Linked DNA regions of Homo sapiens: all the other regions are reported to be linked to region 2. The links are microRNA targets in miRTarBase. Many come from high-throughput screens and were not tested one by one. Region 2 holds a microRNA gene; each other region holds the end of a gene's coding sequence.

Region 1 (3,318 bases), not on the chromosome of region 2:
GTGGTGATCGTGGCAGAGGTGGCCCTGGTGGCATGCGGGGAGGAAGAGGTGGCCTCATGGATCGTGGTGGTCCCGGTGGAATGTTCAGAGGTGGCCGTGGTGGAGACAGAGGTGGCTTCCGTGGTGGCCGGGGCATGGACCGAGGTGGCTTTGGTGGAGGAAGACGAGGTGGCCCTGGGGGGCCCCCTGGACCTTTGATGGAACAGATGGGAGGAAGAAGAGGAGGACGTGGAGGACCTGGAAAAATGGATAAGTAAGTGCTGGTGAAAAGCAGCTGTGGGCCGCCAGGCACAGTAAGAGGACAGCCCTTCCCAGCTTGGTTGGCGCAAGTCCTCATGTCTCTAGGAAGCTTGTGATAGTGGTTGGGAGGAGCCAGGAAGGGGCACCTGGGGGCTCTGGAAGGGCTTCCTCACCCCTTCCCATTCTAACCGATTGGGAGGAGCCAGGAAGGGGCACCTGGGGGCTCTGGAAGGGCTTCCTCACCCCTTCCCATTCTAACCGAAGGGCCCTCTTTACCTTGCAGAGGCGAGCACCGTCAGGAGCGCAGAGATCGGCCCTACTAGATGCAGAGACCCCGCAGAGCTGCATTGACTACCAGATTTATTTTTTAAACCAGAAAATGTTTTAAATTTATAATTCCATATTTATAATGTTGGCCACAACATTATGATTATTCCTTGTCTGTACTTTAGTATTTTTCACCATTTGTGAAGAAACATTAAAACAAGTTAAATGGTAGTGTGCGGAGTTTTTTTTTCTTCCTTCTTTTAAAAATGGTTGTTTAAGACTTTAACAATGGGAACCCCTTGTGAGCATGCTCAGTATCATTGTGGAGAACCAAGAGGGCCTCTTAACTGTAACAATGTTCATGGTTGTGATGTTTTTTTTTTTTTTTTAAATAAAATTCCAAATGTTTATAAAGAGTCATCCTTCTCGGCCTCTGTTCCACAGTCACTGTGTGTCTGCTGGGAGCATGCTCCCACCCCACCCAGGAGAGGGGTGCCTTCCAGGTAAACGGTTGGTTCAGGGTTTGTGTGAGGGGAAATAAGCGGTTGTGACATGGAAACAGACTCTGGCCCTGATGCAGCCTCTGAGACCCACTAGTGTCCAAAGGTTCAAGGGGAGATCCAGGTAAGGGAGGCACAGGAAGAACTGGAAATAACTTTGCCTTCCATGGGATCACGGATCAGGCACTAGGAGCATCTAAGGGGCTGCTCCCTCAGGTGAGGGACGATCCCTCTCAGGCGGACTGGGTCGGGTCCTCTCATCCCCAGCACTTCTGGGCATGCATTGTGTGCACCTCTGCTGTTTCTTTCCCTGGTCATTTCCTGTTCTAATATGTGTTTGACTCCCTGCGTTTGGAAAACCCTCCCTTAACCAGCCATCATCCCCTTCCCTCCATCAAACCATCTTCCTGGCCCTTTCTACAGGAAGCACATGGAAAGAGCTTTGTCCACCCCTCCCTCTCTGGAACCCACTTCATTCTTCACCTGCACTAAAACAAGCAGCTCTCAGTCACCAACCACCTCTAATGTTGCCCAATCAATGGTCTTTCCTTCTCTGTTCTCCCATCTCCTTCATTGCTTCCTTTTTCTCCTATCCCTAAATGCAGGAAGGCCCCAAAGCTAGCATTGCGCTCCCCTGAGCCGCCACACTGCCTGGCTGTCCTTTCCATACTGTGGCTTTAGCCCTTTCTCCCTAGGGCCAACTCGGCTTGGGTGCATGATGGGTGTAGAGCAGGGCTTGCTCTTGTCCCGTCCTGCCTACACCCCAGTTCAGTAAACACACACCTGCCCCAAACCTTGGAGTCATCCATGACCCATTCTCAAACCCCAGCCCCCAACCTAGCTCTCTTGCAAATCCAGGACGGTGCAAATCCACCCACAGCCCCCACCTCCATAACGCCCCCTCACTGGGTTCCCTGCTTCTCCCCTCAGTATCTCCAGCCCTTCCTCAGAAGCCAGACCAAGGTTTGTGGGGTTTTTTGTTGTTTGAGATGGTCTTGCTCTCACCAAGACTGGAGTACAGTGGTGCAATCACAGCTTCACCTCCTGAGCTGAGTAGCTGGGACTACAGGTGTAGCACCCAGCTAATTTTTTTGATGTTTTTGTAGAGACCAGGTCTCACTGTTGCCCAGGCTGGTCTCAACTTGGGCTCAAGTGATCATCCCACCTTGACCTCTCAAAGTGCTAGGATTACAGGCGTAAGCCACCACACTTGGCCCAAACCAACTTGACACGGGAGGTCATCTCCAGTCTCAAAACCATTTGGTGGCTCCAAGCACGCTTGCCATGCCCCAAAAGACCTCTGGGACCCCAGCTGCCCTGCTCTACCTTGCACGCCAGTCCAGCACTGTTCCTCAAGGGGCCGAGGACGCTCTCACCGCAGCCTTGGTGTGTCAGAGCCAAGATGCACACATAACCTAGGAGGCCCAAACTCGACTAGGGCATCACTGGGTCCCTGCGTCGTGCCAGGCACTGCGCTAAGTACCTCTGTGCGTTTAATTCCTAATAACCTTCAAGGCAGGTAACATAGGACAGCCACACGTCAGCTGAGATGGGAAGAGAGAGGTCAAGGGAGGACTTGCCATTGAGAGGCCTGAATTGAGCTAAGGGTGGTCGCCCTCCAGGCCCCGCACGCTCACCCTCCCACCAACCCACTGTATACAGGCACCTGCTTCTGAAAAGGATGGGTGCTCTGACATGACCCGCATGCTGCCAGCACTAAGGGAAGACAAGCAGCCTGCTCTGGAAGCTGCTACTGCACAAGCATCTGTCAGACTCTGGCATTGCATAGGCTCCCCAGGAGTAGCCTTATGTCCCTGCCCGAGAGGGGTTTGTCACTGGCACTAAATAGCCCTGGTAGAGATGTTTACAGCAGGCAGGTCTATTTTTCTCAGCCCAAAGAAACTTCTGGATGCTCTGGGCACAGATTCCCTCAGGCAGCATGGATGCCAAGCCTGTCTCAAAGGGCGGCAGGAAGCTGGCTGGTGCCAGGGCATGAAGGAGGTGGGCAGGGCAGAGAGCAGAGCAGGTGGAGAAAAAGCCTAGTCTCTACCCACACCCTGGTCAAACTCCCCAAAAGCACCTAGACTAAAAGTTGCCAACACAAACTTGAGGTCCCACGAGGCCACATGGCACAGGCCTGGGCAAAGGTGGCGGGGTCCATGGGGAGACTGATCTATGCCCACAGGGAGTGGCTCCCCTGCTCGACGGGGAAGAGCACAGGGCTGCAGCAACAGCAGTACCAGCAGCTGTGGGGCTGAGGACTGTGCAGTCTGTGACAGGGACAACAGCTGGCCCTCGTGCTGTCCCCTCC
Region 2 (3,348 bases):
AGACCTGTATACACGGAGTCCCACTGATCAGGTAAGCAGTGGGTGGTTCCTTCCTGCCCTAACTCTACTCTCTTTGCCCTCCCAGAAAGGGCAGTGAGCTGTCTCGGCATTCTTCCCTTAGGTAGCTGTTGAATGAAGATGCACTTCCTTGTTAATGTTCTCTCTCACAATCACAGATACACAAATACTCGTATATGCACATGTGCACAAGCAAGGCATACAGGAGAATGAGCATGCAAGGGAGGCCCACATGTGGCTGGGTGCCCAGCATATGCAGACATGTGAGCATACAGGGACAGGAGAGACAGGAGCCTTTTTGATTATACTCACAGGGCCAGATGCCCCCATCTTTACTCATTTTCTGTCTCTCTCTCTCTCTCTTTCTCTCTCTCTCTCTCTCTCTCTCTCTCTCTCTCTCTCTCTGTCACACACACACACACACACACACACACACACACAGAGAGAGTGGAACTTCTGATGTTTTCCTTCATATCCCTTATGTGAAGGGGCGTGAACTTTGTTGACCTAGGGAGATTGAAGGAGAACCTCATCAACTCACACGTGAGGAATTTAAGAGGATGAATCTGTGTATCCCCTTGTGCAGGCACTCACACTCACAGATACTCGGACCTCTTCTCTCTCACCTGTCCCTTGCATGCAGGAGTTTCACCATCCCCCTTAAAAATGCACATTCATTCAAACACATATATACATAAAAATAGAGAGTAAGAGGTAAAAATATTGACGGCTGTGTGCCAGGTACTATACTTTATTTCATTTTCTTGACACCATTTAAGAGGTAGGCTTTAAATTGTCCTCATTCTTCAAAAGTGTTTAACTTGACCTTGGGAAAATCAGGTCGATTCTCTAGGCTAATATGTGGTAGAGCGTGCATTTGAACCAAGGTTCGTAGATACCAAAGTGCCTGGTTTTTCCACTACATTAGTGATTCTCCCAGTGTAGTCCCTGGACCAGTAGCATCAGTATCACCTGAGAACTTGTTAGAAATGCAAATTCTTGGGTCTCACCCCAGACTCACCAAGTCAGAAACCTCTGTAACCTGTATATTACCCAGGTCTTCAGATGATTCTGGTGCATGTTAGAGAACAACTGTGCTAAACTGTACTGCCTTCTTGTTGCATAGTCACACAAAGCATTTGCGGGATCATGAGCTTTGGCGTTATATTCATTCTCTCTTTCCTCCCTTTCACACTCCTCTCTCCTCCCAGTCTCTTTATAGGTTTATACTTTTTTGTTGTTACTATCTGAGAGAACAGACAAAATGTGTGTTTAACTAGACATCTTTAATGCAAAGCTCAAGAACTGTTCTCTTTACTTCTATATCATGACAAGTAAGTACCTTGTGTGAAGAAGAATGAGCCCTCTCACTGAACATTCACAGGGCTTTGTGTTCTGCTCCCCCTCTCTAATCCTTGCTACCTGGGTGAGAGTGCTGTCTGAATGCAATGCACCTGGGCAAGGATTCTGAGAGCGAGAGCTTCATCTTCGTGTAGGACAGAGCGTCTTTCTGTCCTCCTATCATCCATTCCACAAGTATTTATTGACCACCTTTTCTGTATATGATACTAAGTTGAGTAATGAGCATACAGTTGCTAACAAGACATGCTTGGTCCCTACCCTCATGGAGCTACAGTTGAGGAAGAAGAATGGAATTCCTCATCATCCATTACACCTACATGCCCTGAGAGTGGGTGGGCCACAGAGTGGACTTCTCATTACCACTGTCACCCACAAACATACACAAAAGCATGAATCTTCTCTGATCTCACATGGAACTCTGCAGGAGAAAAGATTCTCTGCCTTTCTGTAAAGTCCCTAGTAAATGACACTGTATATACATGAGAGTGAGACTTGGTTATAGCTACACATGCACACATACAAACACACAAAAAGGGCAGGTGTCAGAGCCTTCTTGTCTGCTCCCCCTCTTGAATCCTTGGAACCTAGGTGTGAGTGCTATTTCAGTGCAACACACCTATTCAAGGATTCAAAGAGGCTGAGCCTTGTCTACATGTAGAAGGACCAACAACCTGTCCCCTTCTTTCACATGTTTGTGTTTGCTATGCGGTGCCAGATCCTGCACTGGGTGGTGGAGATACAACGGTAAATAAGACAGCTAAGGTCCCTGGGCTCTGTAGAGGGCACCTGTGGGAGAATGAACTTCATCATTGCCCTGGACAAGCTTACACCTCTTTGAGAGCATGAGCTTTCTGTTTACTCCCAGCTTACTATGTGTCAGATACTGTAATGGGGAAACACACATTGGGTGATGAGACTTGCACAGCCAGTCTTTGCTCTCAGTGAGCTTATAGTTTACCAGAGAAACAGAAGAGAATGAAGTATCCCAATTTTCTGTACCATCTTCCAACATGTGCATGTACATGTGTGCCCACATACAGTTTGTCCCAACCTCCTTGCTAGGCCCCAAATACATCCAGCACCTGCAGACCCTCAAGTGTGATCTGAAAAAGATGCCACTCATATCTTTCATTCTAGTCTGAGGTTTTGTCTGAGAGGGCATGTCCATGTGGCCTTGTGCAGGGGGATGAATACATATGCTATCCCTGAGGAGAGGCATCTGTCTTAGCAAATGCACACAGAGATACTTTGCAGGAATGGGACCATGAAAGTCAAATATATATGGAGATATACATGCAGGGTGCAGGTGCCTGAGTCTTCTGCTCTGCTCTTCCTCTCTAATCCTTTGTCCCTGGGTGAGAGTGCTTTCTGAATGCAATGCACCCGGGCAAGGATTCTGAGAGGGTGAGCCCCCTCTGCGTGGAGAACAGAAGATCTGTATGTCACCTCTCAGCTGCTTGCTGCTTGCCTGCCTGCTCTCTGACCCTCATTCATTCTTTCCTTCCACAAATAATATGTATTGGGCACCATGATGGGCATTGGACACAGAGAAATGAACAAGGCAGACTTCGCCCCTGCCTTCCTGGATATTATAGCCTGAGAGGAGAATGGACTTTGTCACCACTCATTGCCCCTGCATATACTGAGGGTGAGTGGGCCACATAGGAACTTCTTATCTACCCTCTTCCCACCTTAACCCACCCATAAGTGTGAGTCTTCTCATTCCTGCTGTCACATTGATACTTGTTTCTTGTTTTTTCCTTCTTTCCTTCCTTCCTTCTTTTCTTTTTCTTTCTCTTTCTTTTCTTTCTTTCCTTCCTTTCCTTTCCTTTCTTTTCTTCTCTCTTTTCTTTTCTTTCTTTTTTGATGGAGTATTGCTCTGTTGCTCAGGCTGGAGTGCACTGGCACCATCACAGTTCACTGCAGCCTCAACCACCTGGGCTCAAGCGATCCTCCCACCTCAGCCTC
Region 3 (3,000 bases), not on the chromosome of region 2:
ATTAGCAGCTCATACACGTGACAGAGCCAGATTCAGCCTTGGCCTGACTGATTTCCACATCCAGAATTCCCCTCATATAGGGAGATAGAAATCTCAGGATCTCAACAAGGTACAAATAACGCACATTCCCAGAACATAGAGCCAGGGACAGTCCCCTCTCAGTTCTCTTCTAAAGGTGGTTCTGGCACAACAGTTGATAAAGCTGTGTCCCTGAAGGGCTTTTTAGCCCTGGGTGCTTCCTGTAAAACTTGTCAGCTTCCACTGGATCTGCGGGACTGTGTCCCTCACAGGCTGGACACCCGGCCCTGCGGAGAGGACTTGATTAAACAAGGTATAATGTACTTCTCTTTCCCATCCACAGATGGATCTGTCTGTAGAAACTCTGTTCAGCTTCATGCAGGAGCGCCAGAAAAGATACGCCAAGTATGCCGAGCAGATCCAGAAAGTGAACGAGATGTCCGCCATCCTCCGCCGCATACAGATGGGCATCGACCAGACTGTGCCCCTGCTGGACAGGCTCAACAGCATGCTGCCCGAGGGCGAGCGGCTGGAGCCCTTCAGCATGAAGCCCGACCGCGAGCTCAGGCTGTAGCTGCTGCCCGGCCTGCCTGGGGCTGGGAGCCCCAGACACCGACACCCTGAGGACGTGTGGAGCTAAGGTCATATCATCTGACCAGGTCTGGAGGCTGGCGGGAGGCTCCCTGAAAGTGGGTGCGAAGGAGTCCGGCTGGCATGAAAATCTGACTTTGCCCAGCTCTTTTCCTTGATGCAGTTTCCCGGTGTGGAAGGAACCTAACCAGTTCTCGGTGATAACTGAAGCTGGAACGTGTGAATTATTAGGAATTCTTTGAAGAACTCTGCATTGAGAATTATTTTTATTTAGTTTTTTTTTTTTTTTAATTGAGAGTATATAGTCCAGTCCAGGTACCGGAATAAAAATATGGAGACAAGGGGAAAATATTTTACGAAGCTCTGTGTTCTCAACGCCCTCATGAACTTTTCAGTAGGCTGTCTGGTTTATGTGTGGTCAACTTGAAAAACTAATTGAATCTAGGTCTCTGTATTGTTCCTGTTTCTACCCTGACTGTTTCCGTCACACCAAGCCCTTATCTGGGGCGCGTCTTCCTGCCCAGGTGGAACACTGGCATTTTGTTGACTGTCAGGTTAGGTGTCCCTTAGTCGTCATCAGAAGCTGAAGCCTTCCTTTCCACACCCTCATCAGATTCATCTCCACTGATAACCGGTTTCCTTGATGCAGACATAGTTTAGCTTTCTTTGACTGCAGAGATGTCTCATTCCACAGACATTTCTTGAACCCATTTGATGTGTCCAATATTGTGCCAGGGATACAAATATGGCCGTATAGCCTCAGGCCTTCATTTCTGAAAAGAAAAAAGCTCAAAAAGCTGCTGAATTTCTCTGGGAGTTTAGGAAAGGAAGTTATTTGAGTAACAACAAAAGTGCTTAGTGTCGTACTTTACACATCATAGGTGTTCTAATGGAAGCAAGGACTGGAGAAGCAAAGAGTGGAATGTGAGGAGCAGACCTAGGCAGACACCTTGAGACTAAAAGTCAGAGCTGAAGGGAGTCGCTGGGGCCAGGACGGCATGCAGGCCTGTACCCTGTTCCCTAAGTTCCTGCAAGCGTCGGGAGGTGTGTTTTCAGATACCAGAAAGAGCCTTCAGTAGATTCACAAGATTAAAATTGATGCGCTTAATTTAATGTATCTTGGCTAAACTTGATCTGATTCTAATCTTGGTTTGAGACAGGGTCTTGTGCTGTTGCTCAGGCTGGAGTGCAGTGGCGCAATCATAGCACACTGACTCCTCAAACTCCCGGGCTCCGGGGATCCTCACGCCTCAGACTCCTGAGTAGCTGGGATTACAGGTGTGTGCCACCAAATCCAGCTAATTAAAAAAAATTAATTAATTTTACATTTTCAAATTCAAAAGAATAATACAATGAATATTCATATTTCTTTCACCTAGATTGACAAAAAGTGGTATATTTAAGACATCACCATCATTGTCTTTCTTCTGGAGTATACAGAACCTGGTTCTGAACACAGGGATATGTTTGTAGCTTCGAGGAATGAAGGGCTGTTTACAGAGCTACAAAAATAGCTTAGGTGCCATTATCCTCACTGCACTTAATACAGGTGACACATGAAAGCACAGAGTGGGTGGCAGTTCAAGCCTGCGAGGGCCGAGCCTTTCCACTGCTGCAGCTGTTAGTGGCTGGCACAGGGCAGGATGGCAGACCTAGTGCAGCACAAACAAACCACGCAGTCAGCCAGCTCTCCAGCCAACTGTGTCTACTTCTAAAGTAGAAGTTAGACAAAACATGGGGTTCACTTAGACTGGGGTCCTGAGTAGGTGATAGGCTACTTATTACTGGGTGGAAGCGGAGAAGTATGGCAGAAGAACAATAGGCAAATTCAATACTCCCGGAAAGAATTCTAGTTAGTTTAATATTTTGATGGCATGTTGTGGTTTCTGCAGTGTCGTGAACTTGGCTAAACTGAACTGTGTTCCCAGAATTCCCTTCCTTGTTTGTTTCTCTGGTGAGGGTTGGCCACGAGAGAGATTTGCATGAGGTTTGGAAGTGGAAGTAGAGCAACAGCCATGTGTATTCACTGGAAGTGGATGTAGGTCAGGCCCTGTTCCATCACGTGCACGTTACCATGGATCTCCTGCACTTGTGGTGTGGGCAGCCGCTGGGCCCACGGCTCCTCCCACTCCCGCAGAACTCTGCCTTTGGCTTTTCCAGACCCTGGGCCGGGTATGAGAACCAGCTTCTTGGTCTGCAGCCACAAGGATGAAGGTTTGGGGATGAGAGACCAGCACGGGCTCTGATGAGAGACAGGTGCAGGTCCCAGCTTGTGGCTTGCAGGTCTCAGTCGTACTTGCTCTCCCTCACCATCCTTTCCAACCGCCTGGCCTGTGGTCTGGTGAAGAAGAAACAGCCGAACCGAGACTTTCACCAGCCCCTCTAATTGCT

The links. The annotated mature microRNA hsa-miR-362-5p reads AAUCCUUGGAACCUAGGUGUGAGU and lies in region 2 at 1,953-1,976, shown strand. An mRNA with a match to its seed (bases 2 to 7 or 8) in the 3' UTR can be bound and repressed. Matches are read on the target gene's strand: a 7mer-m8 pairs with bases 2 to 8, a 7mer-A1 pairs with bases 2 to 7 and ends in A, and an 8mer does both.
Region 1: the mRNA of EWSR1 is a reported target of hsa-miR-362-5p. The part of its 3' UTR that is shown has no 7-base or 8-base seed match.
Region 3: the mRNA of BORCS5 is a reported target of hsa-miR-362-5p. Seed matches in the 3' UTR shown: 7mer-m8 at 2,813-2,819.

What each region holds. Positions count from the first base shown.
Region 1 is chr22:29,299,599-29,302,916 of GRCh38, forward strand. It overlaps EWSR1 (EWS RNA binding protein 1), which reads left to right. Exons shown (of 17, transcript NM_005243.4): 16 at 1-253; 17 at 524-923. The coding sequence ends at 563. Among named protein-coding and RNA genes, the nearest start is that of GAS2L1, 5.4 kb to the right of the region's middle.
Region 2 is chrX:50,007,016-50,010,363 of GRCh38, forward strand. It overlaps MIR362 (microRNA 362), which reads left to right and starts at 1,949; the gene lies at 1,949-2,013. The region is part of intron 3 of CLCN5 (chloride voltage-gated channel 5); the gene reads left to right. It overlaps MIR500A (microRNA 500a), which reads left to right and starts at 1,416; the gene lies at 1,416-1,499. It overlaps MIR501 (microRNA 501), which reads left to right and starts at 2,707; the gene lies at 2,707-2,790.
Region 3 is chr12:12,465,185-12,468,184 of GRCh38, forward strand. BORCS5 (BLOC-1 related complex subunit 5) reads left to right here. Exons shown (of 4, transcript NM_058169.6): 4 at 362-3,000. The coding sequence ends at 592. Among named protein-coding and RNA genes, the nearest start is that of DUSP16, 96 kb to the right of the region's middle.